Linked DNA regions of Homo sapiens. The protein of the gene in region 1 interacts with the protein of each later gene in a biochemical or structural test. Each region holds a gene or a part of one and is shown in the gene's direction. Other genes may lie near its edges.

What was found.
Region 2: the proteins of GRIP1 (region 1) and MPP2 interact in a test that uses a peptide from one of them, tested with the Homo sapiens proteins (one large-scale study listed by IntAct).
Region 3: the proteins of GRIP1 (region 1) and SLC17A1 interact in a test that uses a peptide from one of them, tested with the Homo sapiens proteins (one large-scale study listed by IntAct).
Region 4: the proteins of GRIP1 (region 1) and DGKZ interact in a test that uses a peptide from one of them, tested with the Homo sapiens proteins (one large-scale study listed by IntAct).
Region 5: the proteins of GRIP1 (region 1) and ARVCF interact in a test that uses a peptide from one of them, tested with the Homo sapiens proteins (one large-scale study listed by IntAct).
Region 6: the proteins of GRIP1 (region 1) and CRB2 interact in a test that uses a peptide from one of them, tested with the Homo sapiens proteins (one large-scale study listed by IntAct).
Region 7: the proteins of GRIP1 (region 1) and SLC22A11 interact in a test that uses a peptide from one of them, tested with the Homo sapiens proteins (one large-scale study listed by IntAct).

Annotation. Positions count from the first base shown.
Region 1 is NC_000012.12:66,672,324-66,676,162, reverse strand, and holds part of GRIP1 (glutamate receptor-interacting protein 1), read left to right. Parts: intron 1-3,839. UniProt on the Homo sapiens protein: May play a role as a localized scaffold for the assembly of a multiprotein signaling complex and as mediator of the trafficking of its binding partners at specific subcellular location in neurons.
Region 2 is NC_000017.11:43,897,437-43,901,275, reverse strand, and holds part of MPP2 (MAGUK p55 subfamily member 2), read left to right. Parts: intron 1-651; exon of another isoform or gene 652-723; coding exon of another isoform or gene 724-805; intron 806-2,895; coding exon 2,896-3,014; intron 3,015-3,839. UniProt on the Homo sapiens protein: Postsynaptic MAGUK scaffold protein that links CADM1 cell adhesion molecules to core components of the postsynaptic density. In CA1 pyramidal neurons, required for synaptic KCNN2-containing channel function and long-term potentiation expression.
Region 3 is NC_000006.12:25,828,971-25,833,591, reverse strand, and holds the start of SLC17A1 (sodium-dependent phosphate transport protein 1), read left to right. Parts: upstream 1-1,539; 5' UTR 1,540-1,598; intron 1,599-2,984; 5' UTR 2,985-3,034; coding exon 3,035-3,068; intron 3,069-4,621. UniProt on the Homo sapiens protein: Important for the resorption of phosphate by the kidney. May be involved in actively transporting phosphate into cells via Na(+) cotransport in the renal brush border membrane. Plays a role in urate transport in the kidney.
Region 4 is NC_000011.10:46,350,380-46,354,218, forward strand, and holds part of DGKZ (diacylglycerol kinase zeta), read left to right. Parts: intron 1-3,839. UniProt on the Homo sapiens protein: Diacylglycerol kinase that converts diacylglycerol/DAG into phosphatidic acid/phosphatidate/PA and regulates the respective levels of these two bioactive lipids.
Region 5 is NC_000022.11:19,978,759-19,982,597, reverse strand, and holds part of ARVCF (splicing regulator ARVCF), read left to right. Parts: intron 1-506; coding exon 507-665; intron 666-860; coding exon 861-1,387; intron 1,388-2,355; coding exon 2,356-2,855; intron 2,856-2,905; exon of another isoform or gene 2,906-3,206; intron 3,207-3,517; coding exon 3,518-3,701; intron 3,702-3,839. UniProt on the Homo sapiens protein: Contributes to the regulation of alternative splicing of pre-mRNAs.
Region 6 is NC_000009.12:123,354,710-123,359,077, forward strand, and holds the start of CRB2 (protein crumbs homolog 2 precursor), read left to right. Parts: upstream 1-1,487; 5' UTR 1,488-1,551; coding exon 1,552-1,645; intron 1,646-4,368. UniProt on the Homo sapiens protein: Apical polarity protein that plays a central role during the epithelial-to-mesenchymal transition (EMT) at gastrulation, when newly specified mesodermal cells move inside the embryo.
Region 7 is NC_000011.10:64,558,924-64,562,762, forward strand, and holds part of SLC22A11 (solute carrier family 22 member 11), read left to right. Parts: intron 1-211; coding exon 212-315; intron 316-3,080; coding exon 3,081-3,235; intron 3,236-3,343; coding exon 3,344-3,512; intron 3,513-3,839. UniProt on the Homo sapiens protein: Antiporter that mediates the transport of conjugated steroids and other specific organic anions at the basal membrane of syncytiotrophoblast and at the apical membrane of proximal tubule epithelial cells, in exchange for anionic compounds.

The DNA of each region.
Region 1 (3,839 bases):
GACAATTTATAGGTGTAAAAAGCATTTTTAAAATGAATATATTATTGAACAATAAATATTTTTTCTTTAGGTCAGATGTAATTTTAAAAGATGTATAAAACATGTATTTCTAGACAAGTCCTTGGATCACTCCACATAGACACTGATCCACAGTATTATAGTAGAATATATTTCAGGTAAACTTAGCACTTCTCTGACTTGGGAATTGAGTCATTTTCTTATTAATGTTTCAAGCCACTGTTTCAATCATTTTGCCTTATCAGGTACCTACCAATGTAGAACAAGAGCAAGAAAATAACCTTTACCCAAAAGGCCCATGCCTGCCATTATGAGAGGAACTTTGGTTCATGAAAACACCAAGCACCGTCAAAAGCATTCCGTTTCCCATCTAATATTGAAATCTAAAGAAGCAATGCCGTTCTTTTCTTCCTCCAGAATGAGAGTCTACCAATTACCCAACCTTAGAGCCAAATCCCAAAATAACATTTTGTGAGGTTTCCAGAGACATCTGACAAAAGGGTTTTCTGGAGTGGGTAAATCTAGGCTTCTTGGCACCTACCTTCACAGCTGTTTACCTGGGACAGCCCTGGTTTCTCAGCTAGGGGCTACCATACCTCAGGGGAAGGGAGTATGTTCTCAGAGAAGGGGAGATATTTTCATGGCTCCCACAGACTTTGTTCTTTTTCTCTTGTCATGATTGTGTGATTACTTTTCCTTGAGACAGTTTGGCCTCATATGCAGAGAATCACTTTCTCTGGTGATATGGGATGTGACTCTGCTGCTTGCTCAGGTGCTGCCATTTTGAGCTCCGAGATCTGAACTTTCGTGCTCCACTGGCAATGGCATTTTTCTTTCACAAGCTTCACTCTGCCTACCAATGCCAACATCAGCCAATTAATATTTACTGACATTCCACAGGGAGCACGGCTCTGGGCACCTTTCATTGTTTTGCTGCCACCCACCCTCTCTCTCTGTCTTTTCTCTACTGGCTCAAAGCTCATGTCGGAAACCTTTGCCTTCACTTTAGTATAGACTTCAACATTTTTCATCATAGCTGGCCTACGTGTCATTTTATTTTCTACTTATCTTCACTTTCTCTCTCTTCCCAAATACACATATGGCCTAAAATAGAATTAACTCTCCCTGTCCCTTTCCCACTAACAAACTATAAGCAGCCCCGTTGACCTTCATCCCAATGGGGTGTCTAAGTGAGACATCTGTGGCTGGCAGGGAACTGCTCCCTGCTGTGCATTCTACTTTCTTTCTCTCTCCCTCTCTTCTTCCTGATTTCTCCTCCCAACCTCAGTATCTTTTCTCCTTTTCTGCTGTCTGGGCATGTATGGGTATTGCTCTCTCCACTGGCACTGAGCAAGATTAAAAGGCTGGGTTGTGATCACACTCACTCTCATTTTTTCAGTCATTGTTCCTTACACTTACCCCAATCATGGAATCATTATGCTTGAAAGGGAAGGTCAGACATTCGTCTAGGACTTGTTTCCAGAGAGAACTGAAACTCAACCATCTCAGACAACCAGTAATCTTATTCTCAATTCTCTCTGACAAGAACAATCTCACAGTTTGTCTGATAAACTTTTAATGGATTACTCAGGTGACGTCTAAATCCCTTTAAACTCTGACACTCATCCTGTGTTTAAAAGTTCTTCTATTTAGAAACTCATTTCCTAAGTGTAATCTTAATTAAAGAAACACATTTAAATGTTTTGTCTTAATGGAAGAGGAAAAATATTTCCCATCTTTTCTCATCTGCAGAATCTTTTAATCCAAGGAATTCTGAATCCATCACAGAGTTCAGTATCAGTGTTCCAAACCTGATGGCTCCTTTGCTGGTGGCCTTGGATTTTCTGTTCTGGTCACTTTGCTCTTTCCCATCTGTCTGTGTCTAGCCTTGTGGTTCCTTCAGCAGTCTTCTCTAATGATTCCTCATCCACTCTGTGATATGATTCAGAACTGATCATCATCTGGGTTGAGAATGCTCTCTCTCTCTGTGCTGGACCTCATTTCTCCTGTCTCCCCATCCTCATCCATTCTGCTAACCCTCGCTGGCCTTCTCTGTCAGATCCTGCCATCTGGAACAACTTAACTGTATCCTCCACCTCGTTAACTTTCCACCCCTTTCCAAATCTCACCTGCAACCATGTCCTTTCTGCTTTGCCTCCACCCCTTCATTTCATGCCATCAAAGCTAGTGCATTTAACGTATTTATCTTTCTAGCCTATCAACTTTTTAAAATAATATGCACTTAATAGATATTTCACAAAGTAAGTCTGTCTTGTTTTATTGGAGTTTCATCTATTGCTAGGGCATGGGGCATATTTCTCTTGCAAATAGAGAGACCCCACTTGAACAGGAGAATGCTGCAGCTGGGTCCCAGGCAGGTCTTGTTCTCGCGCAAGTGCTGCTCGTGGTCCAGATTGTGATGGATTTCTTGCTGTGCTTCTAGCCCATGCTTTGAGGGAGTTTACATTGAACAGTGGCTTGGACCGCTTTACTCTCCACTGGACTGAAGCTTTTCGTTTATATAACTAGTTAGAATTATCATAATGGCGCATTTATTTCTCCCCTGTCTTCCAAATGGGAATTGGATGCTAGAAATACTTTACCTCGTTCCAGGAGGTACCCATCCTCCAGAGGAAATTTTGGCTATGCCTTGTATGACCCCATATAAACAAGAAGGAGTCTACACCCTTCTTATATGATTGTAGCAGGTTAGGAAGAAATATCTGGTTCATTACTGGGAAAAGGAGGGCCAATGTAGGATAGGCATTCTAATCGATTAACTTATATACTTTTGGGAAATGTTTAGGAGGAAGAATGGAAATAAGGATAGCTAACATTTATTGAGCACTTACTTTCTGCCAGGTACTATTCTAAACATTTTACATGTACTAACTCATTTAAATCTTGCAATATTATCGTCATTATCCCCACCATACAGATGAAAAAGAAGAGGTTCAGAGAAGTTAAGAATCATTCCTAAGATCACAAGTGGAGGACAGGAGGAACCCCAGTGTTTCATTTTTGCCATTTTTTTTCTCTTCTAGAAACGGATAGAAACCATAGACCTGCCTATCTAGAATAATAAAGAGAAATTAATCAAGACAACACCACACTAATCTCTCAGCATTCCTTATGGTAGGGGAAATAGAATAGACTTAGAAATTAGAAGATATGTCAACCTTTCCTAGCTTTCCTATTTTTACTTGTGTGGCAAAAACAAACAAACAAAAAAACTGAATTTCCCCCACTAAATTTCAGTTTCTTAATCTGTAAATTAAAAATTACTTGTGAAAACTGTTTTATACTCATGTTAGCTATAACAAAATGATTTAATTTTCTACTACAGTTGATTTATTTGAAATTCTTATATTAGTAAATTCACTTTATTCTGGCGGAAAATATATAATTTGATAACTTCCCACTATTTGAGAGGAGGCAAAATACATAGTTTCTAGGGATAGGCAAGCCGTCAGTGTTTGAAACTCATCTTTTTCTCTCTTTTAGTTTCTTACCACTTTTTTGCCCATATACATGAGAATTATGTTAAATTTAAAATTAGTAACTGCTGCTTTATTAAATATACAGAAGAAAATCTTATTTGCAGATTTTTAAAATAATTATTTGTTTCAGTATCGCATATATCCAAAAAAAAAATGCACCCAGATATTTATTACATGTAGCTCCTTAAAGGATGTTACTGCACCCTTCAAACCAAGGAAACTTTGACCTTGCCATTACAAAAAGCAATAAAAGCAGTGGTCTTGGATGTCTCAGTCAATGATGACCACCTAAATTCAGGCAAAGCTCGGGGTATTAGAAAG
Region 2 (3,839 bases), on another chromosome or scaffold:
GGCTGGGGCACCATCCCTACCCACAGCGATGCCACCTCCCCCACGTACCCTGCCTCCCAGTGGCTGACCAAGGGTGGGTAGGGGGAGGCGTCTGAGGCTTGAGGTATTTGCCCCATGCCCAAGTGAGGCTGCCTCCCGGTGGAGGGCTGAGTCGTTCTTGGGGACTTCCTTAGACTGAGGGACTATTGTAAAGGAAACAGGGCCTGGAGAGGGGACTGAGAGCAGAGGTCAGAGGGCATAGGGAGGAGGTGGCATGGGGTGTATTAGAGGAGGGGCTTCTAGAAAAGAGGGTACAGGGACAAGATGGGCCAAGACTTTTCTCCCTCGGGTCTCCTGAAGCTGGCTGTGAGGGGAGGGTCTCGGAGTACCGCGCCAGTCTTGAAGGGGCAGCATGCCTACCCCCTCCTCAAAACTTCCTGTTAGCCGCCTCCTCCCCATCCCCACCGACACTGACATGCTGGGGATCGGGCAATCTGTGGGACTAGGGCTCCCTCCCACCACTCTTCTCCCACCCGGGTTACCGCCTGCTCTGCACCGCGCAGCGCCAGTCAGGGCTTTAGCCAATCAGCAAGGCGGTCACGGCGGCTGAGCCTTCCCATTGGCTGGTTCCTCAGAGGGCGCTCCTCGACTCCCGCCTTCCCCAGCCCGGCCAGGCTTTGGCTGGGGAGGCGGTAGACGGCGGCGTGTAGGACGCTCCGGGAGTCCCCGGGTCTGGGGGCCGCCATGGCAGGCAGCCCAGGCAGCGGGGTCTCCTTGGAGGGTATATCCCTGGAGTCTTCTGAGGAAGCGGAGCTCCAGAGGGAAGGTAGGGAAGGGCGGGCCAGATGGGGGCGGGGCAGCTGGCCCCTTAGCCTACCTTCCTCCAGCAGAGTCGGGGCATCTGGGGAGGGTGGCCTGGGAGAGGTCATCTGAGGGCACCTTCAGGAGAGCTGTCCTGGGCAGAGGGCACCAACTCCCTTGGCTCAGTCCTCCCCTAGATAACGGAGGGAATCTGGCATACCCTGGCAGGAAGGGAAGGGTCCCTGCCCTGGCCTCTTTCAGAGCCCACTGAGGGCCTCGCAGGTCTCTGACCAATGCCAAGCCCCGGCCTGGGCAAGAGGGGTCTGAAGGGCAAGCTTGCACTTTTTTTTCTGGAGAAGGCAGGGAGCAGGAGGAGGAAGGAGATGGGAGTCCAGGAGTCCCTGAACCATCTCTGCCAGCTCCAGTTCCAGTGCCCCCTCCTCCCCACTCCTGTTCCTTCCTGGAGGAGGGGGGCACTGACAAGAGCATTGAGAGGCGCCAGGGGTGCATCCTCCGCCGTCCTCCGTGGCTTGGGTACTGTTATGCAGATGTAGGCATGGGCGGCATGGTGGCAGAGTAATGATACCCTTCGCCCATCTCTGCCCCCAGCTGGGCACATTCTGCTTCTCGCTTCCTTTCCCCGGAACTTGCCACAGCCTGGAACTCCCACCTCTGTCAGTGAGTGAAGGCAGCCCTCACCTCAGGTCTCGGGGGCATTGTTGCGGCCCAGCTGCAGGTGTTATCGTGTCCTCCATTATGTCCCATTTCGGGCTGAGAGTTTGCTTATCCCTGTGATGACTTGGTGTGACCTCAGCCTTTGGGTCACACCAAGGCCTCCAGTGCCTGTTTCCCTAGCTCCTGCCAGCGTTCCAGGCCTCAGCTTTGACTTCCTATCATCCATGTTAATTTCTCAGTGATTATAGATCATTGTCACTCAGAGCTGAAGGCCTGTAAACATCATCTAGCCCAATCCATCCATTTTACAGGCAGGAAAGACTGAGGCCAGTGAGGGACAGTGACTTGTACAATGTCACACTGAATTAGTGGTGCTTAGACTGGAGGCTGCAGGCCCTGGCTCCTGTGTGGCTGCCTGCTTGACTCTGGGCCTGTACTCACGGACTTGCTCCGAGTACTGTCTGTCTCATCCTTGAGCCTGCCAGGTACAGGTGGCTGAGCCCTGGGCTTCAGCCCATCTAGAGGTTGAGTGAGGAGCTTGTGGTTTTCTTTTCTTTTTCTTTTTTTTTTTTTTGAGACGGAGTCTTGCTCTGTCGCCCAGGATGGAGGGCAATGGCAGGATCTCAGCTTACTGCAACCTCCGCCTCCTGGGTTCAAGCGATTTTCCTGCCTCAGCCTCCCGAGTAGCTGGGATTACAGGCGCCTGCCACTACGCCCAGCTAATTTTTTGTATTTTTAGTAGAGACAGGGTTTCCCTGTGTTGGCCAGGCTGGTCTTGAACTCTTGACCTCAGGCAATCCACCCGCTTCGGCCTCCCAAAGTGCTGGGATTACAGGCGTGAGCCACCGCGCCCGGCCAGAGACAGTCTTGCTCTGCCACCCAGGCTGGAGTGCAGTGGCGTGATCTCAGCTCACTGCAATCTCTGCCTCACAGGTTCAAGCAGTTCTCCTGCCTCAGCCTCCTGAGTAGCTAGAATTACAGACCTACACCACTATGCCTGGCTAATTTTGGTATTTTTAGTAGAGATGGGGTTTTGCCTTGTTGCCCAGGCTGGTCTTGAACTCCTGGCCTCAAGTGATCCACCCAACAGCTTGTGGTTTTCTGGTGCAGGGCAGGATCTGCAACCTGACACCTGCTTCCCTTTCTCCCTTCTCTCCACCTCAGAGTCTCTTCCAGCTGCCTGGAGCCTCCCACCTGCTCAGGCTGGCATTACCTAGGGTGGAGAGAACAGGCCAAGGAAATTGTCCCCTTCCTCCAGGATCCCTGTCCCAGGCATTCAAGGGCCTGGGGTGCCTGTGCTGGGCAGGGAGGGGAATGTTGCCGGGGAGGGGCTGCCTTCTGTGGGACATGGGGGTGGGGAAGTGGCAAGTATTGTGGTGTGTTTTGGTCTTCTGTACCCAGCTGGTACCTGTGTATCTCACTGCCCGTACCTTCCCCCAGCCATGCAGCAAGTCCTGGACAACTTGGGATCCCTCCCCAGTGCCACGGGGGCTGCAGAGCTGGACCTGATCTTCCTTCGAGGCATTATGGAAAGTCCCATAGTAAGATCCCTGGCCAAGGTACAGTGCTCCAGGGAGGTGGGCACAAGGGCACTGTGCTTGGGGAGGCACAGTAGGGGATGGGGTATTAGCTACAGAGGGCTTTGGGAATGGGACATGTGGCACAAGAGGCCCCCCTGAAGGGGATTGTAGAAGAAAATCATGCCCAGGTGATGACCTGAGTGGCTGCAGGTAGAGGGGGCTGCCCCCACACCTGTCTGGTGAGTGCGTGGGTGGATGTTTGTTGACTGCCAGCTTGTGGAGTGTGTGATTGGTGCGGGCTAGCATGCACATGTTGGAGAATCTCTAGAATTCATCTTGCCTGTCCTTCTGCCTTTGGGCGTTTTGTGTGTATGTCTTTCTAAGGTCACCTGCCATGTATCAGGTTGGGGAGAGATTGACTAAAAGAGAAAATTATAGGACAATTTGGTAATGACAGTGATAGAGGTGGATACACTATGCATTTTGGGAGCATAAAGGACAGGTGTCTAACCCAGCCTGGGGTGGGTGAGGAGGGCTTCCTGGAGGAAGGACCACTTGAGCTGAGTGGAAGAATGAGGAAGAGGGGGAGGGCATTCTGGGCCACAGAAGAGCTTGAGCAGAAGCACAGAGGTAAGAAAGAGTCAGGAGTGTGCAGGGGATTGGAAGGGCTGGTGTGAGGCTGAGCCTCAAGTGTAAGACAATGCGAGCTGTGCAAAGGTTGGCAGGTCTGGAGGGCACTGGGGGCTGTATGTGGGTGCTTGGGCATCCTTCTGTGAGTATCAGGGAGGCTTTATGGTTTTTTTTGTTTTGTTTTGTTTTGAGAAGGAGTTTTGCTCTTGTTGCCCAGGCTGGAGTGCAATGGCG
Region 3 (4,621 bases), on another chromosome or scaffold:
TTAAAAATTTAATACATAAAACACAGAATCCAAAAGAAACAATTTCAAAGAATCTCACAGAGCAGCAGAAAGCTTTGGGGCCAGCAAACAGAAAGATGGTTCTCCTTCAGGTAATCAGTATCCAGAACTGGGATACTGATGGCAGATGGGAGTGTTATTATTTAACACATGGACTTTGAACAACTGCTGACCTAGGGGTTTCAATCACTAAAAGGGCTCCTCTTTCAGAAAATGCCAGAAATTGCCCAGCATGAAACAGGACAGTACAAACATTCTGCAACACACAGAAGAGGACCAGCAGAATCTGGACTTTTGAAAAAGAAAAAATCTAACTGAATAACAACATCAAAGTCTCCTGGGCAAAGGGGTTAAAGATTTACAACATTTCTTTAGAGGAAAAAAATAACTGGTTGAATTTACAGAGCATCTGCTATGTGCCAAACATTTAATGAGCACTTTAAAAGCATGATAAAAATTAAAAAAAAACTTGTTAAGCATGAAATAAATTACCTATAATGCAAAATCACTGATTTTAGTGCTTGGATATTTTTAAGTAATTAGTAGATTACCTTCAAAGAGTTCTAAGTTAAAAGTATTAGGGGCCAGGCACGACGGCTCACGCCTGTCATTCCAACACTTGGGAGGCCAAGGCACAAGGATTGCTTGTGGCAGGAAGTTTGATATCAACCTGGGCAACACAGCAAGACCCTGTCTCTACCAATTAGCTGGGTACAGTGTTGCATACCTGTAATCCCAGCTACTTGGGGCTGAAGTGGAAGGATCCCTTGAGCTCAGGAGTTCAAGTCTGCACTGAGCTATAATTGCACCATAGCACTCCAGCCTGGGTGACAGTGTGAGATCCTGTCTCTCTATGTTTTTTTTTTAATGTTTCTGGATATTGCTATAACCAAGTGGATGAACCAGAACCTACAGTAATTGCAGGAAGAGCCATGAGAGAAGCCACACCTTCCAGAGGACATGCCTCAATAAAATGTACCTCTTTCTGAGTATGCTGAATGTCAAACAGATGTACTGTTTAGAGAGGAGTGTGGAGGAGACAGGGTGAGGGAAGGAGGGAAAGCAAGGAAGGAGGGAGAAGGAAGAAGGGAAAGAGAAGGAAGAAAGAAAGAAAAAAGGAAGAAAAGGAGGAAGAAAGGAAGGAAGGGAATTAAGAGTAAAAATTTAATATGGCATTTATGGGGCATTTAGAAAGCCACAACATTCCTGTGAGAACAGCATTGTATACTCAGAGCCATCCTTAATAGAGAAATCTTGAGAGCACTTATGGCAGGCAAGCTCTACCTCCTGGGCAGGGAGAGAGACTAAGGGTGTCTGCTTATTATGCCATGAAATTACTGGCAGATTCCCAGTTTCTGGTCCACTGGATGATTTTGACCCACACACCTTCCCTGAAGCTTTAAGGAAAAGGTAACAGTAAAGTTAAAAATTAAGCTTTTAACTTCGACACAGTGATGTCAAAAGATTTGGTGAATGATTTATGGGGCTAAACTTGGTAATCCTAGAAAGTCAATATTGTGTAAAGTTGAGAGAAAAGTCTTCACAGCGGAAGAAGAAATCACTTTTTTGTCCCGAATCAGGTTAGTCTACGGGGCTCATTAAATGAAATGAGCAATCAGTTGATTCCCCAGAGGGCCGTAAGGGGGCATTCCCTGGCAAAGATATTATTGAAAGTACTTAGCAATAGGGGAAAATGTGGGGAGGGGTGGAATATGCCCTATCTTCTGAGGCTTTTCACAAGAGAAAAAAGAACATATTTTTAGCAATCAGTGTGAGGTTCACAGGGACACAAGGAAAGAGAAGTATGTGTTGTACAGTGTGTGATGCTTGTATAGCTGTGGTGTGCTGTGTCTGTAATGTGTGTGGCACACTGTGTACGCCTGGTGCATCTGTGCCCATCATTTATGTGTGTGTGTGGTTATGTGTGTGGTGTTTGTAGTTTGTACTTCCGTTTTGAGGATGCAGTATTGTAACGTATTTATATGTTTGGTTTGCTATGTGTCTGGAGTGTATGTGTGGAGAACATAAGGGGAGTTTGTACCATGTGTTTATGTTGTATGTATGTATGTGGTGCATACGTATGGGTGGTTTGTGTGTGCATTTGGTGTGTATGTATATATGTATTGAAATAAACAGCAGCCCCAGAAGAGGTTCCAATGTGTGATAATGATGGTTGACAAATTGCTTATTCAAAAATATTTTGCAAATCCAATCTCAGGACTTTGGTATCTTTGGGGCACTAGGTATCATATAATCTGATATGGTAAAATCCTGAGGTCTAACCTGACCAGCACATATTGGTGCTGAATTCTGATGGTAAGGGGTTGCCTGATAGGAGACTGCTCCATTCTGATTCTCCACTGAGCTTCCTGCCATAAAGCTTTGCATCAGTGGCTGCTCTATCCACGGAAACTGAAGATACGGACAGGGGCATGTGGACGTGTAACGAATGATTAGCCTCTGCTTGAGTTGATCTTATCAATAAGCAGATAGTATCTTCCAGCTCTATTAAGATACAGGGGGAAAAAAGGAATTTGTTTTACCTTTGCTTACTCCTTTTCTGACATTCTTCCTTTCTTTTCATACTGCCGAGTTTCTGACCTATAGCAATCTCCTTCTGCCTGAAAGGCTTCTTTTAGTGTTCCTTACAGGGCAGGTCTACTGGCAATGAATTCTTTCCATTTCTCACTTTGGAGGAATATTATCACGGATTTAGAATTCTGGATTGGCAGGGTTATTTGTTTGTTCTCTGTAGTTTTCAGGTCTTCCATATATTTTTAATCAACCAAAACAATCACAAAAGTAAAATAAATATCAAGGGAAGCACATAATGGAGGTGAATGGGCACTGCTGTGATGGAGCAAGTTATCCTTGGAAGCGGTTTTAAATCAGAGAGGAGTACTGGGTAGTGTTTGGTCAGTTGCCTCTCTACATTATGCTGACATCAACGTGTTTTGCACTCACAGTGGGTGGAGGCAAAACCCTTCAGCAAGAAGAGAAGCAACTTCAGCCGTGTATGCAAATGGATAACCGGTTGCCTCCCAAAAAAGGTAGCACTTTATTCTGTTCCATTAAACAGGTGTTCTTTTTCTTAAATATTACATCACAGATTCCATGTGGAAGAATATTTTTGTGATATACATATGGGGTCTTAAAAATGTTCAGAAAAGAAGGTAGAAGAAACCAGTCCTACTATGGTTTTCCACCAGAAAAGCCCTAAATAAAAAGATTCTACATACTCTGGTGGCTTACACTTTATTTTCATTTTTGCGCACTTGTCAGTTTATCATTTAGTGGAAAATATCAGAAAAAACTGGGCTATTTTGGTTCCATCTCCAAGAGAAAGAGAGATAGATCTGTAAGTGGAAGTAAGGCAGGATGAATGTTCTTGAGTCCCTGCATTCTTGGACATCAACAGCTGAATGTGTACTGAATATTTTTTGAGAGAAGCTGTTTATTTTAGGCAGGGTAGTGTAATGACAATAAAGGATTACTGCTATTGGTTTAGCGTTGTGTCAATGTCATAGGGGACAAAATCCCAGAAAAGGAGATGAGCGATAGATTGTATACTTTTTCAACTTATGAAAAAGTTACTGTATATTAAATTATGTATTTCTTCTTGTATCAACTTTGATACTTAATTATTTTGATTGTTTAAGTTGTCCATTTAATCTGCATTCAAAGTTTATATATATATGTTTTTTTCTATATATTATTCATTTCTGCCCTTATGCATTTAATTCCTTTTAGACTTTTTGGGTTTGTTCCTTTGCTCAGTTTCCAAGTGTTTAAATTCTTTCTTTTTTGATAAATATATTTACAGATGCACATTTTACTCTGTCCATGAGTTTGATATGCGGTATTCTTATTACTCAATCCCAAACACTTTAGAATTCCCCCTGTGGTCTTCTTTTTAACTTAAAACTTGTTTAGACATAATTCATGGACTTCCTGGAGCAATGTGGAGGAGAGAAATGAGTAAAACTCAAAAGCATACCCCTAAATGACTAAGACAATGAGCCCTTCTCTGACATGGTGACAATGACTTCCCTTTTACCATGTAGAGACTCCTGCAGGTGTGTTTACAAAGTTTCTGATAGCTTTCTAGATCCATTCACTTCCCTATGATACTGAGTTTAGGCAGCAAATCAAAGGAAGGGCTGGCTGATGATTAAATTTCTCAGGGGTATTCTTTTACCCCCTTCTATTCAGCTCTTAAGTTCATATGGCACAAAATTTCTTGGCAGTCCACTGACAAGATAAGGGGGCAATGTGTTCATCCTCCATTGAACCATGTAAATCTTTGACATCCAAGCATTTTAGGAGAGGGTCTCCTACTATACACTATCGCATCGCTAGGACCTTGGTATTTGATTCCTGTTGTCCCCATATCATGGAAGGCCAAAAATCCCAAGATCAAAAGTCCACAGTGAAACATCTGACTTCAAGGCCCAACTTATGTTTTGAGGCCCCCATCTTCACTAAGCCCTTGGCCTGAATATTTCATCTTTCCTCTTAGATCACCCATGCTTTTAAAAAAATGGTTTATTTTAAGCATATTTTATCTAATATTCTTATCTTTTAACAACGGAAGCTCAGTTGG
Region 4 (3,839 bases), on another chromosome or scaffold:
GGTAAAAGTCCTCGAAGCCCCAGCTGAAACCAGCCCTTCATCTTATCCCAGCTCCATGCTAGCTCTTAACCTAGCTCTTGCTTCTCCCCAGTCATCCACCCCATGTCCCCCATCCCGCCCCCTCCCCACCCCACCCACATACACACATCCAGCCTTGGGGTTGAGGGGCCCGACGGGAAGATCAAGGGTAACAACTAGGTTGGCAGTGGCTGCTGAAGCCAGGTGGAGAATTCTGCATGCGGGCCCTGGCTCATGGGGAGAGTTCCATGAACAATTAGCAGTGTCTGCTGTGGGCTTGGCAGGGGGTCTTGATGGCACATGGGCCACATGTTTGCCATCCTGGCCCCTCTGGGTAGGACAGTCTCTGAATGGCAGCCCCTGTGGGGCTGAAAGAGGCTTTTCCTTAAAGTCCATCTCTGCCCCACACAACTGGCGTCATCCTCTCAGAATCGGGGGGTGGCAGCTTGCCATCTCCCTTTTTTTTTTTTTTTAGCTCAGTGAGCCATGATTCTCCCCAGCTTGTGGATTCCTCCCACCCCAACTGCATCCCACCTTACTTCTTGCCGGAACTATCAGTCTCCTCCCTGAGGAGGAGGAGGAGGAGAGGAGGTACAGGCCCCTACTCTGATCCCAGGGTATTTAGTTTTCCTCTACCCTGAGCAGAGGGCAGGCAGGACCTTTCCATTTAAGCTTCTGTTGACCCTAAGGATTGGGCAGCCAGGAGTGGGAGAGAAGTGGACTCTCTCTCCTCCTCCAGGACCCACCGGGAAGGAGGACCCGCTTATCCTCTGGCCTGGTCTCAGCAGCCTGATCCTGGCAGGTCACAGGGCTTCTGGATTAGCTGGTTTTACACCCCAGGGGCATCAGAAATTACCTGGCACCTCACACATGTAGACATAAGGAGCCTTGGCCTCAGAGCCCCTAGGAGCCTGAGCGTCTGTGCCGCCATCCCCTGCCCTTCACGGTGCTCAAAGTCACAAGCTCCCAGAGGGCAGGAGGCACACCTGCAGAACCAGTGTGAGACAATGGGTCCCATTTAGAGGCACTGCCACACGGCCCCAGCGAGCATGGCCCTGAAGTCAGGGCTGCAGAGGGTGCCCAGCGGGTGCCTGAGCAGAAGCAGCCCCTGTTTGAGTTGGTTCTGCAATGAATAGGGAGGGACGTGTTGAGGGACGCCTCTTTTGCAGAGGTGAGAACCCTGTCTATGGTGCCAGGGTGTCTGGGAGCGAAAGGAAACCTCTTTGAGTGGTTTGTCTCACCTGGGCTAATGCTGGGAGCAGCCCAGGTTGCTGTGAGAGGCAGGGACAACCTAGAATCCTTGGGTTCCAGCAAGTTTGGGAAAGAAAAATGGGCCTCAGTGGCCGAGCTGCGTTCATCTCACTGTGTTTGCTCCCCACACAAGGTCAGGTGCCAGAGTATACAGCTGGCCCCTGCTGGGAACCCAGTGTAGAATTCTCACAGTCTCCCTCTGTGCCAAACGCTGTCAGGGGAGGGAATGACAATTCTTGTCATTTTGTCTCCATGCCATACTCCAAAAAGGTCAGATCCTGGGATGTGGAGCTGCCCAGGATTCTCGGTTGGCACAGGAGCTTGAGAGTTGGTGTCCCCTCAGGCAAGGACAGAGGAAGGACTAAGTGACCCCTGGTGAGAGAAAGCTGAGGCTCCAGGCAGCTGGGCTGGGGGAGAGTGAGAGAAACGGGCCTGCCCTCCTCGGCTCCCTGGAGGCCTCTCCAGAATTCGCCAGTGGCCCCCCCGGGGCAGAGGTGAAAGTGGAGTCATAGGTTAGCCCTGAGTCTTAGGCCGCGCGGGCCCCTCGGAGAAGCAGGGATCCGGAGCCCTTCCACCCACTTTAAGGCAGGAGAGAATTGGGAGGTGTGGAAGCAGCCCCTGGAGGCTGCCCTGCAGTGCCTCTGGAGCGACACAAGGGGGCGACAGCTGCCGTTGTGGGAGGCCGGTGGGCGAGGAGCTTCTCCTTCCGCCAGTCCACAGGCCCACGGGGACCCACAGGCACTCGCTGGAAGTTACCTGCAGCTCTAGCTGCCGGGCGGAGCCAATCAGTGCGGCCCAGGGCAGGCTGGGTGGGTGCCTCTAGCCTCCTGGCCCCACCCCTCCCGTCCCCTGAGGCCCAGGCCCAGCCAGGTGGCCTTGACTCAGCCAAGTTCTCGCAGCTAGCCGGGGTCATCTGGGACTCCCGCGCTGGGCTTCCAGGGCCATGTTCATTAAGGCCTCATCACAGGACCCAGGACAGGCTGACCACCTCTCCTCCCTGCCCCCTCTGCCTCCTCCTTGAACAGCCCTCTAAGTCAGCTGCGGGGGCAGTGTGTGCAGGAAGCGGGATCTGCCACACCTGCGGCCAGGTTCTTCCGCTCCCCGAGTTCCTGGGCCACCCCTGAGCGGTGCCAGGCACTCATTCCTTGCTCTTCTTGGCTCTCCTCTGTTCCGTGTCGGGGTCAGCCCCACATCCAGCCTGCAGTGTGGGTTTCAGCACAGGACTTGGCTGGCACTTGGGTCACAGGTGTGGAGGGTAGGCCAAAACTAACCAAATGCCCTGGAAGAGCTATCATTCTGCCATCTTTCCTCTTCACCCCCTGCCTCGCTGAAACACCAGAGACGTGGTTAGGTCGGGAAAGCAGGTTCGAGTGAGACCAAGGGCTCTGTGGCCGCGGAGGGGAGGGAGAGGCTGAAGAGACAGGAGTGGCGTTCCAGCTCCTCTGTCTTTGGTGATTAACAGCTGCCAGAAGCTTGTAAATTCATCAGTTTCATGTGATCTTCATAACATCTTTGTAGTTGGTTTGATTCCCATTTTGCAGATAAGAAAACCAAGGCTCAGAAAGGTCAGGGGCCTGGCCAGGATCCCCCAGCTCACACTGGAGCCCAGCCCAATGATCTTCTCATGACATTGGGCCACTCTACTTAGGAGTACTCTTTTCTTCTATTATTTGCCATCCCTAAACTGGGAAGACCTAAGAAGAGGTTTGAGTGCTCCATGGGGTTTAGTGAAAGGTCTTTGCCTCCGGTGCCAACGGTGTGAGACCCATGAGATAATCTGACCTGGACCCCCAAGGGAGAATGGCCACCAAGATCCCTCAAGTCAGGGGAGCAGGCTGGACTGGGAGAGACCCTTGGTAAAGAGACTGGGGCTGTGAGCCCGTCATCATGTGGCGTCCGGGCTGGGTCTGGCGTGGAGGACAAGTCTGATCTTTTTCCTTGCTTTAAGGGCGCAGGGAGTCTAAAGCCCAATGGACATGCTCAGAGGAGCCCCCATACCACCCAGGGGTCGGTGGCTGGTCTGGGGCAGGGAAGATCGCTTCACTCGTACCCAGTGCCTCATGGTGAGAGGTCTGAGAGGAGAGGGAGGGCCCCAGCATCCTCCTCATCTACACTGAGACCTCCTCCCCTTGCTCCTGGCAGAGCATCAGTTCAGAGCTCCCACGTAGAGGCCTCTCCCCTGCCAGGGATGAGCCCATCTCAGCACATGCCAAAATAGCTGTCTGGGAGCCTGGGCCCGCACCGCCCACACCCCAGCATCTCGCGGGTTAACAGCTTGCCTGTCTCTCCGCCCCCTTCCCCAGCTTGCTGACATTTTACAGAGAGAGGCGGGGGCGGTTGTGAAAGGGGGCAAGCTGGTTCTTGCTCCCCAACCCACACGGACACCCCACTGACACAGCCTGCCACCACCCACCCACCTCTGGAAGGCATCCCCTTGGGGGAGACCTTCCTTCCATCCTGAGGGCCCTGAAAGGGTGAGGGACAGGCTGCCAAAACCATCCCTGGTAGACCCAGGGAGCTCTAGGGGGCTGGTCTCCCTCAAGGGGTCTTTTGTAGGACACAGGATCTCC
Region 5 (3,839 bases), on another chromosome or scaffold:
CCCCCACAAGGCTTCTATACTCAAGGTGTCTGGGGCAGGTGAGGGAGGAGGCCCCAGGACACCATGATGTCCCAGCTAGGGGTGGTGGTTGACATCAGGAAGGCATGCTGCAGGTCTCACTGGCACCTCCTGGGGCCTGGAGGAGCCTGTGGCAGCCAGGCCATGCAGCTTGGGGAGGGCCCTGAAGACTTCACCCCCCAGGGTCTATGTCCTTATCTGCCAACTCAGCCTGAGGAGACCTGAGATGGGGGTCCAGCCCCAGGGTCCCCCCAGGATGGGGTGCCGGGGCAGGGTTAGCACCTCGATGTTCAGAGGGCAAGAACTTATTGCTGTCCTTGTCAGCTTGGGCCGAAACAGGCCTTGGGGTGGGTGGGTTCAGGACCAGGAGGAAGGCACCCTGGTGTGCTGGCCAGCATGAGCTGAGGCAGAGCTGCTGTGTGTGGAGACCTGCACTCCAGGGGTGACTGAGCAGCAGGCCTGCCCACCAATGTCCCTCCTTGCCCCAGGAGCAGAGCCCAGGCAGCCAGGCCTCACTGGCCACGATGCCGGAGGCACCTGATGTGCTGGAGGAGACCGTGACGGTGGAGGAGGACCCCGGCACACCCACTTCCCATGTGTCTATTGTCACATCCGAAGATGGCACAACCCGGCGCACCGAGACCAAGGTATGGCCAGGCCCAGGCAGTGGGTGGGTGAGCAGGGCCAGGCTGCTGCAGCTGTCCCACCTGCAGAGTGGACATGGAAGCTTGCCACGTGGGGCCTCTCATTGCTCGAGTGGGAAATTAAGGCCAGCCAGACCCCAGCAAAGCAGTTTCTAGGCCTCTCGTGCTACCCCACCTACCTGCCTATCCATCCACCAGGTCACCAAGACTGTCAAGACGGTGACCACTCGGACAGTACGCCAGGTGCCCGTGGGCCCAGATGGACTCCCCCTGCTGGATGGCGGCCCCCCACTAGGCCCTTTTGCAGATGGTGCCCTGGACCGGCATTTCCTGCTGCGTGGTGGTGGCCCAGTGGCCACACTCTCTCGAGCCTACCTCAGCAGTGGGGGTGGCTTTCCCGAAGGCCCCGAGCCCCGGGACAGCCCCAGCTATGGCAGCCTGTCCCGAGGGCTGGGCATGCGGCCCCCACGTGCTGGCCCCCTTGGCCCAGGCCCTGGTGATGGCTGCTTCACACTGCCTGGCCACCGGGAAGCCTTCCCGGTGGGTCCTGAGCCTGGGCCACCAGGTGGCCGCTCCCTGCCCGAGCGCTTCCAGGCAGAGCCGTATGGCTTGGAGGATGACACGCGCAGCCTGGCCGCTGATGACGAGGGTGGCCCTGAGCTGGAGCCTGACTATGGCACGGCCACAAGGAGGAGGCCTGAGTGTGGGCGGGGCCTTCATACCAGGTGAGCTGCACCCCGTCCCCTGTGGCTACCTCCTCTGGGAAGTCTGCCCTCCACCCCCCAACTACAGAGTGCCCCACTTGTCAAGTGGCGCAGTTGAGTTAGTCATGCATGTTAGTTTGAATTGGCCTTGGCTCTCGTCAGGGACAGAAGAAAGGTGGACCCTGGGGTGGTAGGAGTTCGGCTGGGCACTGTCCTGCAGGCCCAGGGCCCAGGAAAGCTGGGAAGAGTGCCGGCCACTGGCCTTGCTCCAGCCACACTCTGGGTAACCAGAACCCAGAGCCCTGGCCCTTGTCACAGCCCCTGGTTCTGTCCCCATTGCCCTCAGTTTCTGCATCTCTGGAGTGGGGATGTGACCACAGCCCGGGTCAGGATTTTGTTGTGTGACCCTGGCCAAGTCACCTGACCGTCACTCCTAGCCTCAGGGCAGGCGGTTTGATGACAGCAACCCACAGGGCTACTGAGAGCTAAGGAGATCTTGTGCCCCAAGGGGCTGGTGGCCTGAATACTCCTCAGGTGGTCCTACTGGGATGGCTTCATGCGGAGAGGGCCATTTACTCCCCCTACATCCTGGCACAGCCAGAGATGGGCCTCATGGAAGATGGGGTGGTTTTGTGGAAGGGAGGTGAGACGGTCTCTCCAGCAGCCATAGCAGATGTCTCACAGAAACTTGTTTTGCTCGGGATTGGGAAACTGCCCGGTGACAGCAGTGAGTGAGTTTGCTGTCCTGGGAGGGTTGCCTGGGTCCTGGTAGCCGCTGGCTGGGGTTTGGCATTTGGCTCTGAATTGGTTCTCACTGGGCTGGTGCATGACTCTCTGTGTCCCCACCATGCTCCGGGCCAAGATACAGGTGCTCTCAGCCCAGCGCTGCTGGGTGAGTTTGCAGTCCTGAAGAAGGTGTGATGGGGCAGCTCAGAGGCAGGGCTGGCGGCTGCTGTGACGATGTCCACGCGCCCCACTTGCCTGTGCAGGGCCTACGAGGACACAGCAGATGATGGCGGCGAGCTGGCGGACGAGCGGCCTGCGTTCCCAATGGTGACGGCGCCCCTGGCCCAGCCTGAACGGGGCAGCATGGGCAGCCTGGACCGGCTGGTGCGGCGCTCGCCCTCAGTGGATAGCGCCCGCAAGGAGCCGCGCTGGCGGGACCCTGAGCTGCCTGAGGTGCTGGCCATGCTGCGGCACCCCGTGGACCCCGTGAAGGCCAATGCGGCCGCCTACCTGCAGCATCTGTGCTTTGAGAACGAGGGTGTCAAGCGGCGTGTACGGCAGTTGCGGGGGCTGCCGCTGCTTGTGGCACTGCTGGACCACCCGCGGGCTGAGGTGCGGCGCCGGGCCTGTGGGGCACTGCGCAACCTCTCCTATGGCCGCGACACTGACAACAAGGCCGCCATCCGGGACTGCGGTGGTGTGCCTGCCCTGGTGCGCCTGCTGAGGGCTGCCCGGGACAACGAGGTCCGTGAGCTTGTCACTGGTGAGTGGGACCTGGCCATGCTCACATCCCCTGGGAAGAGAAGAGTGTGAGGCTCAACCCGGGAGGAACGAGGCCACTCGGCCTGCGACCGCCTGGGAAAGCACCCGGTAGGCAGGAGTGCAGCTGCTGAGACGCTTGCCCCAGGAGCCAGGCATCAGGCCCAGACACTGTGACAGGTTCCCCAGTCTCTACCATAGCAGGGAGGCTGACGCTGCGCCCCTCGGGCATGTCCCCTCACCTCCTGCCTTCACACCTCCTGCCCCCACAGAAACTCTCCTGGGACCCACCTCCTTGGTTCCCACCCCAACCGTGCAGTGGTGGGGCTTGTGCCTTGTGAGAGCTGAGGGACAGGTAGGGTCACCGTGTCTCTGTGAGGCCCTGTGGCCTCAGGAGTGTTAGTGCCACCTGCCACATGGCAGGGAATGGGTGGGACGGGACAGCACTGCCACACCCTCCTCTGCACCTCCTCCCCTTTGGGGCTCCTTCCTAGCTGGAAACCAGTACTGGGTGTCCCCCGGAACCACTCACGGCTTTTGTTACTTCCTACTGTTCTGCATGAGCTGGGACATGAGGAGAGTGGGACAGGTCCTGAGCGTGGCCACCTGGGGAGGTAGGCAGGCGGTGCATATGGTCAGCACAGATTGGCCAATCGCACCCCACAGGCACCCTGTGGAACCTGTCATCCTATGAGCCCCTGAAGATGGTCATCATTGACCATGGCCTGCAGACGCTGACCCACGAGGTGATCGTGCCCCACTCAGGATGGGAGCGTGAGCCCAACGAGGACTCCAAGCCACGGGACGCCGAGTGGACAACTGTCTTCAAGAACACGTCGGGCTGCCTGAGGTGTGGACCAGACCTGGTGCTAAAGCCCACATGCACACCAGGCCCCGTCCTCGTGGTCCCAGATAGTGTGGAAGATGGCGGCGAGCTTAGGAGCGCCAGAGCTTAGGAGCTTCAGAGCTGTGGCACAAGTCCTGTGGA
Region 6 (4,368 bases), on another chromosome or scaffold:
ACCAAGGGGCAATCCCTGCCCTGGAGAGAACAGGCCTCAAGGGCAGGGATGGGGCAGGGGCAGTGGATAAGGAGTCTACCCAGGCCTTTTTGGGTTCCCTCCTTTGGTCCCTGGGGACCCAGGGCTGTGGCACTTGCCCCGGGCTAGAGGGTCGGCCAGGGCCTGTGTGGTGCCCACTGCTCCCTCCCCTGCACTGCAGGGGACCCTTGCCCATCCCTCTAGCTCATCTGGACCTCCCTCAATGGCTCCTGCTGTCTTTCCAGGCTGTGTCCTCCCGTGTCAGGGACACATCCCAGAGCCCAGGGCCTGCGTGGGCTGTATCCACGGTTACTGAATAGGGACAAACAGGCATGTATTGGCAGGGGCCGGTGGCTCATTTCAGGAAAGTCCCTTCAGCAAGAGGATTCTCTCCCCACTGGGGCTGAGGGTGGTAGAAGAAAGGAATGTTGTTCTATGTTGTAGTGTCTCTGAGATGACCTGGCTTCCTGAACCAGGTCCCCCTGAAGAGCTCCTCCTGTCCACCCCAACAAGAGGCCAGCTGGAGAGCAAGCAAACATCGAGTGCAGCAGGAGACTATAAGGTTAGACAACAAGAAGGACTTCCTGGCAGGGGAGAGCAATGCTTGCTTGGTTAGAGCTGCCTTTCAGTAGAATGGGCTGCTTTGGATTGCAGTGAGGTCGCTGGAGTTGCAAACAGCAGAGCCAGAGATCAAGGTCAAGTGGAAGAAAGCTGGGAAAGGTTCAGTTTGGCTGGTGAAGGGTGGAGAGGGTAAAGGGAGGCAGGGACCACCGTGGTGCAGGGGTGAGGTGCCCTGCAGGGAGCTGATCCTGAGGCCGATGGTGGGAGGAGCTGTGTGTGGTCGGGTGGGACGGGGTGGGGACAGCAGGAGACACTGAGAAGGTGGCATGGCCAGGAGCTAGGGGCTGACCGAGTGTGGGGAGGGGGGAGTGGGGAGGGGGCGTTGGGCTGCCCGATGGGAGGTGCCTTGGCTCCGATGGGAGCACTGGGGAGCAGCAGGTGGGGGGACGAGCTGGGTGGGAGGGGCTGCAGCTTCCCAGCAGAGACAGGGTCTGGGAGGCGACTGGACTCGAAGGCCTGGGCTTGGGAGAGAGGCCCGGGCTGGAGAGGTGGGGAGGGGGATCCAGGAGAGGGGATAACTAAGGACTTGGGAGTAGCTGGCATCACCTGGTGAGACGAGAGTCCTGAACAGCCCCCTCTCCAAGGACAGAAATTTCTCCAAGGAGGCTGACCTGAGAGGTGGGAGGAGAGTGGGGCAGAGGGTCAGGAGGGAGAAACCAGTGGGTGCCAAGACCAGGTCAGCCCCACAGGCTAGGGGGCTTGAGGACTTGGGGCTGATGTCTAGGGACGTCCACGAGGTGGAGCAGCCCAGGAGGCCTGGGTGGGAGGAGGAGGCGGTGGCGGGGAGGGGAGGGAGGGGCTGGGCCTCTGTCCACAGCATTAGTGCTGGTTGGAGGGACGAGGGGGGTGCGGAGCCAGCCAGGCCGCCCTCCCGTTCTCACAGCAGCCGAGCAGAGCGCAGAGCGGGCTGCCATGGCGCTGGCCAGGCCTGGGACCCCGGACCCCCAGGCCCTGGCCTCTGTCCTGCTACTGCTGCTCTGGGCCCCTGCCCTTTCCCTCCTGGCTGGTGAGTTGGGGCCCATGTCTGGAGGGGCCTGGGAGAGGGTCTGTCCCCCAAGACAGATACCCCAAGCCTTGGCTGCTGGGGTGGTGGGTGGGCTGGTCCGCGTGGGTGCAGGCCTGAGCTGTGGGGTGCACAGGAGTGCGCGGCTGTGGCCCCCAGACTCTGTGGGGCTCCACGGAGGTGAGTGTGTTCTGAGGCTCGGGGCTGTTTCATGTTGAGGGGGGTTGTAAGTTTCGGGGTTGGGGGATCGGGGGCTGGGCATGATTTGGGGGAGCTGATGCGGGTGAGGGATGGGGTGCGTGTTTTGGGAGGTGCTGTGTTGCATCCTGTAAAGGGCTGGGGGACTTCTGGGTTTCTAGGGGCTGAGTTTGGGGAGTTGCAGGTGGCATAAGCCTCACCCCAGAGCTTGTTCTGTGTCGCATGCTGGGTTGTGGGGCACAGGTTGTGGGTGTGTTAGAGTTGGGAGGTGGATGAGCTGTCTGGGGTGAGCCGTGAGTTGTGTCCGAGGAGTTGGGTGTGGTGAGCTGTGTCCTAGCACACGCTGTGGGGTGTAGGTTGTCCAGGGTTGAACTAGGTCTTTGCTCTCAACATGAGGGGTGTGGGATGTGCACAGCCGACCCCAACTCGGGACTGAGTGGAGAAGCGTGAGGGAGACTCAGGGAGCTGGGTGCCTGCCCGCACCCCTCCATTTGTGCGGTAGCCCTGCCTGTGCTGAGGGCTGCTGGGGATGCTCTGGGTCCCTGTGGGGTGGCTGGGGATTTGGGAACATGTGTGTGTCCCCTGCTGCCCCCTCCCCAGCATTCCAAGGCCAATCTGAAAGGGCTCCCTGAAGCCAGACCACATTTGCCAAGCCCTTTTTGCTTTTGTCCAAGCTCTCGGAGCCTGGAATTCCTCCTGGGGGGTCCAAGGGAACGCTTGGTGTTAGTTACTATAGTTACAGGGGCCGGGCCTGGGAAGTCCCCTGCCCCCACCACCACAGGCTGGGGAGGGAGCCAAGGAGGGCCTGGGCTCTCCTGAGGCTGGGGGAGCCCTCCCTGCCCCAGAGCTCCACAGGCTGTAGGGTGTGGGGGCCAAGTGTCTCCCAGTCCCACCTGGGGACCCTCATGTTTCCCGCACTCACAAAGCTTTCATTTCCTATCCTCTCTATGGGGCCCTAGGGAGGATGAGGACCCCATTTTGCAGTGAAGGAAACCAAGGCTCAGAGAGGGACGGGGACTTATGAGCTGGGCTCTGCTGGCAGGCGACTTGGGCTCCATAGAGGGGTGGGGCATGGTGGCGGGGGGCGGGGTGGCTGCTCCTCTCTGTTCTCTGCATACAAAGCACGTGAGATCCCGGTCTGTGGATCGGTGCTCTGTCCCCTGCCCTGTGATGCTCACACACCCACACTCCGCACACCTGTGTGGCATGCCCAAGGGCACACAGCACCACAGGGACAGGTGCTACAGACACATGTGGATCTACCAGCACATGCACCTACCTACACACATGGCATGTGCCTGCACACCAATGTGCACACCCCAACACGCACATGTGGACATGTGTGCATTCACACTCAGTGTGCACTCACAGGGGACCTGGAGGCACAGAGTGGATGGAGGCTGTGGGGGGTCTGGACACTGGTGTGTACACTCAACCCATCAGGCCTGCTGGGTTGCCCAGGGGCAGCCTTTCCTCTGCCATTTCTGTGCTGGGAGCGCCATCCCTGGGGATCCCTAAAAGTTGGTGGGGTACACTGCAGGCATGACCATTTCTGCATGCTGGTACCCTAGACTGCCTGCCGGGAGGGGAGGGATTGGGGATTTTGTCACTTGAAAACCAATTTCCATCCTGGAGGGGATGGGGGCTTCTGGAGGCCATGGGCCCCTGGCTTTTCTCCCCACCCCTGCCAGGCCCTGAGCTGGGCCTCTCCATCCTGGGCCCAATTTGCCACAAAGGCCCGGCTGGTTGCCATGGAGAGGACCAAGCATCTTGGAGTACAATGGGGCACGTTGGGCTCTCATATCCACCCTCCCTTCCCCAAACACCCAGGGAGCCCAGCAGACAAAGGGGCAGTGAGTCCAGGCCCCAAGTCCGGCCCCTCCTCCAGCCAGAAGGGGGTGGGGGCCTGCAGGACAGAAGCAGAGATGGAGCAGAAAGCCACACACATTCAACCCAATGTCAGGATCCTTTGGACAGTGGGTGTCTGCCTCAAGTAAAGAATTGTTAATGAGTAAGATCAGCCACTCCATGGCAGGCACTGTGCTATTATTAACGAGGTCTAATTTAATTCTCCCAACAGCCTATGAAGTCAGCTCTGATACCCCTAGTTTACAGAGGAGGTAAACGAGGCCCAGAGATGGCCAGTCCCAGAGCCAGGAAGCCCCAGAGCCAGTGCTGGGATTTCACAGTACACTGTGCTACTTGCCTAGGCAAAGTCACGTCTCTTCTCTGTCTCTACAAAACGAGGACAGACTGGCTTACTCCGAGCGCTGGTATAAGGATTGGAAGAGAATGCAGTGAGCGGTTCCCCACCCCAGGTTTTGGCATGGAACCCCCAATTTCAAGGGAAATTTTAGATGGAAGCCCATGAATAGTTAATAGTAAAATTGTTAAAAGTGGCCTGTTTGGGTGGCAGGTGGGGAACCCCACCTGCTCTGTCTCCCCCTCACTTCAGGAGGTAACTCCCTGGAACTGTGCTCTGAGCCCAAACTCTCAAGGGTTGGTCAGTGCCAGGCACAGGGTAGGTG
Region 7 (3,839 bases), on another chromosome or scaffold:
ACAGCTGGCAGACGCAGAGCCAGGTCACATTCTGTCCTGCAGCTGAGCTTCCCATGGGGAGTTGCAGCCCCATGGCCAGCAGGTCCTCTCTACCTCTGTGACCTGGCACTGGGAGTCCAGGGACCCCAGTGTGGGTCAGGCGTTCCTCGGCCGTGCCCAGCCCTGTGATTTCATACCCCCCGAGCTGAGCCACTGCACCCTCCTCTTGCAGTGGGACCTGGTGTGCAGCTCCCAGGGCTTGAAGCCCCTAAGCCAGTCCATCTTCATGTCCGGGATCCTGGTGGGCTCCTTTATCTGGGGCCTCCTCTCCTACCGGTGAGTGCCTCCGCTCCTCCCAGCCCCCAGCTCCCTCAAAACATTGTTGAAGACTATGGGGCAGAAGGTTCAGAAATGTCAGGCAAACACCCCATCCCTGCTTCCGTCTCCCTCCTGCCTCCTCTGTTTCTTCCCTCCCCTGGCCATCCGAACCAACCCACAGGCTGTTCCGGGTCCCCATCTCAGCAAGGCCCCCCAGACCCTGGCCTGGTTCCCCTCACAGGGAGGCCACCCCAGGCCATCCCCCACCGCCCCCATTTCCTCTCCCATACTCCTGCCAGATGGTCATAGGCCTCCTCCATGCGGCCGTGCTTGGACCCTGTGCCTCAAAGTTGTCCTGGCTCCCCATCCTCCTCTCCTCTGTCCTTTGTCCCCCAGTCTCAAGGCCTTTCCAGAAGCCTCACGTGGGCCAAACACTAGCCAGGTGCAAGGGATGCCTCAGCAGAAATGGGGGAAGGGGCGGTGGGGAGGGTGGGAGACAAGTGTCTGCTCTTCCCCAGCTTGGAGCCAAGCAGGGCTCAGGACACAGGTAAGTAAGTCAGGCCACCTTGGAACGTGAGGCCGGTTAGGGGAACAGGGCACAGGTGATGGGCACGCCAGGGCCAGCCGGCAGGACTGGAAACGTCTCGTACCAGGTGACACTGAAGCCTAGGCCTGCTGGCGGGGAGAAGCGTTCTCTGTGACACACTTTCTTCTCTTGGCTTCCAGAACATCCTCACTCCTGGTTTTCCTTCCACCTCCCAGGAAGCTGTTCTTGCTCCCCCTCCTCCCGCTCCCCCTCCTGCCTCTCTTCCTGTTCTGGGAGCTGAGCTGCTGATTCCTTGCCACGCCCCCTCACTCCCCCAGCAGCCTCCATCGGAGGACACAGACCCCCAACCTGTGGGACCCTTCTGCGCCTGCGCTGTCCCCTGGCCTCCCTTCCTCACCCCCACACTCACCTGGCTCTTCCTCCAGGACACACTCAGCCCAAGCCCCTCTCTGCCACAGCATCCCCTTGCCTGAGCCACCATCTCCTCTCACCAGGCAGGCTGCAACCCCTCGCAGGTGTCCTCTGCAGTGGCCGTCCACGCTGCCACAGCACTGAGTGACTTTGCAAAATCTCGGAGGTTGATCTGGTCAATAAAAGCTGGCCCAAAGTCCTCCGAGGGCCCCACTGCACTGAGGACAGTCCCTTCCTGCCTACCCCCTGCCCTGCGCTGGGCTTCCATCCACCCCCAGCTCCACCAGCCTCCTCCTGGGGCCCCCTGCACGCCTGCAGAGCGCCTCAGTGACTGTGCTTCACCCAGAAGCTCTTGCCTATGCTGCTTTGTGCCCACACGCAGGCCGCAACTCAATGCTCTTCCTTGAGGAGGCCCTCCGAGGCCACGGAGCCAGAGACTCCTGCCCGGCCCCAGGCATGACTGTCCCAGCCCCTCCTTGCTTCCCTCATCACAGTGCCTGGCTCTGACGATGCCTGGCTGGCTCAAGGCTTGTTTGTTGTCCACGTCCCCACAAGCACACAGGGACCCAGGGACTGTGCTCCAGAGCCCAGCTCAGCACGGTGGCAGACACGCAGTCATTATTTCATGAATGGAGGACTGCCTTCCCACTCCCTCCTGCCACCACCCTACTGGCTCTGGGGTCTGACTACCTGGGTCTGAATCCCAGCCTTATCCCACCCAGCCTTGTCCTACAAGGTAGATCTCTTCCCTTCTCTGGAGATCTCTTCCCTTCTCTGGGCCTCAGTTTCCCCCCAGCAGTGGGGTCTCGCACCTGCCCACGCAGTTGTCGTGAGGATGAAGCGAGTGTCCTTGCTCCTGGGTGCTGCTCAGACAGGTGCGGCCAAGGTCTGCCTCGCATCTCCGTTCTGAGCAGAACGGGCTTGAGTGGCACTAAATGCAATCTCCGGTTCAGACTCAGCCGGCCTGGAGGCCACCGCAGCCCAGGGCACTCGGGCAGGGGCCGAGGGCTCTGCATCCGCCCCATGAGCACCCCCTTCACAGCGCACAGGTGAGAGCAGTGGATTGCAAAGTCTCGGCCTCCTTACTCCCTGGCCCCTTGCCCAGTGTCTTGATTCTCATAGCAGCCCTGTGAGGCATGTCCTTATGGATGCCCTTGTGTTACAGATGGGGAAACTGAGGCTCAGAGATGTCGAATCACATGCCCAGGGTCACCCAGGAAGGACAGAGCTGGGGCTCAAACCCAGGCATCTGATGCCCAAACCTGTGTTCTTTTTTATTTATTTATTAGAGACAGAGGCTCATTCTGTTGAACAGCCTGCAGTGCAGAGGCGTGATCATACCTCACTGCAGCCTTGAACTCCTGGGCTCAAGCCATCCTCCCACCTCAGCCTCCCAAGTAGCTGGGACCGCAGACACCTGGCTAATTTATTTATTTATTTATTTATTTATTTATTTATTTATTTATTTATTTAGTAGAGACTGAGGTCTCACTATGTTGCCCAGGCTGGTCTTGAACTCCTGGCCTAAAGTGATCCTCCAGCCTCAGTCTCCCAAAGTGCTGGGATTACAGGCATGAACCACCGTGCCTGGCCCCAAACCCCATGTTCTTAAACACTGAAACTGAACTGCACCCTCCCATGGCAAGGTACCTGCCACTTTTATAACAGAAGCACTCTGAGTGTACCCCTAAAAGTTCCAAGAAGGAGGAGCTGGCTGCAAGAGATCCCCTGGCGTTGTTGAACTCCCAGAAGGCAAGTACCTGCCCACATATCCACGTCCTCAGGGGCCCCTCTCCAGGCCCCGTGTGCTTCTCTCCTGTGACAGGTTTGGGAGGAAGCCGATGCTGAGCTGGTGCTGCCTGCAGTTGGCCGTGGCGGGCACCAGCACCATCTTCGCCCCAACATTCGTCATCTACTGCGGCCTGCGGTTCGTGGCCGCTTTTGGGATGGCCGGCATCTTTCTGAGTTCACTGACACTGAGTGAGTCCCCGGCTCAGCGCGCTCCTGCCATGGGGGCGGGGGTGGCAGGAGAGAATGGGGCTCAGGCCGCCGCATGAGGCCTCACCTGCACGTGTCTGCATCCTTCAGTGGTGGAGTGGACCACGACCAGCAGGAGGGCGGTCACCATGACGGTGGTGGGATGTGCCTTCAGCGCAGGCCAGGCGGCGCTGGGCGGCCTGGCCTTTGCCCTGCGGGACTGGAGGACTCTCCAGCTGGCAGCATCAGTGCCCTTCTTTGCCATCTCCCTGATATCCTGGTCAGTATGATGTGGGACCTTTTCCTTAGGAGACCCAGGGTGGGAGGGGGACTCTTCACTTTCACCTCTCTGGCTGGCAGTAGGTCCAGAGACCTGGAGTGCCACAGAAGGGCCATGGCATGAGCGGCACCCTCGCTAGGGAGGGACATTGGTGATTGGCAGTCCTGGGCTAAGTGTTGCAGCCCGAGGTCCGTGGCTCCCATCCAGCCCAGACAGGCCAAGATGGGCTGGCACAGCATTGGCTCAAATGGTGATTTAAAAAATACATTTGTAACTAGTTGCTAACATTTAAAAATCAGAAGATTTTCAAAAACAAACAAAAACAGT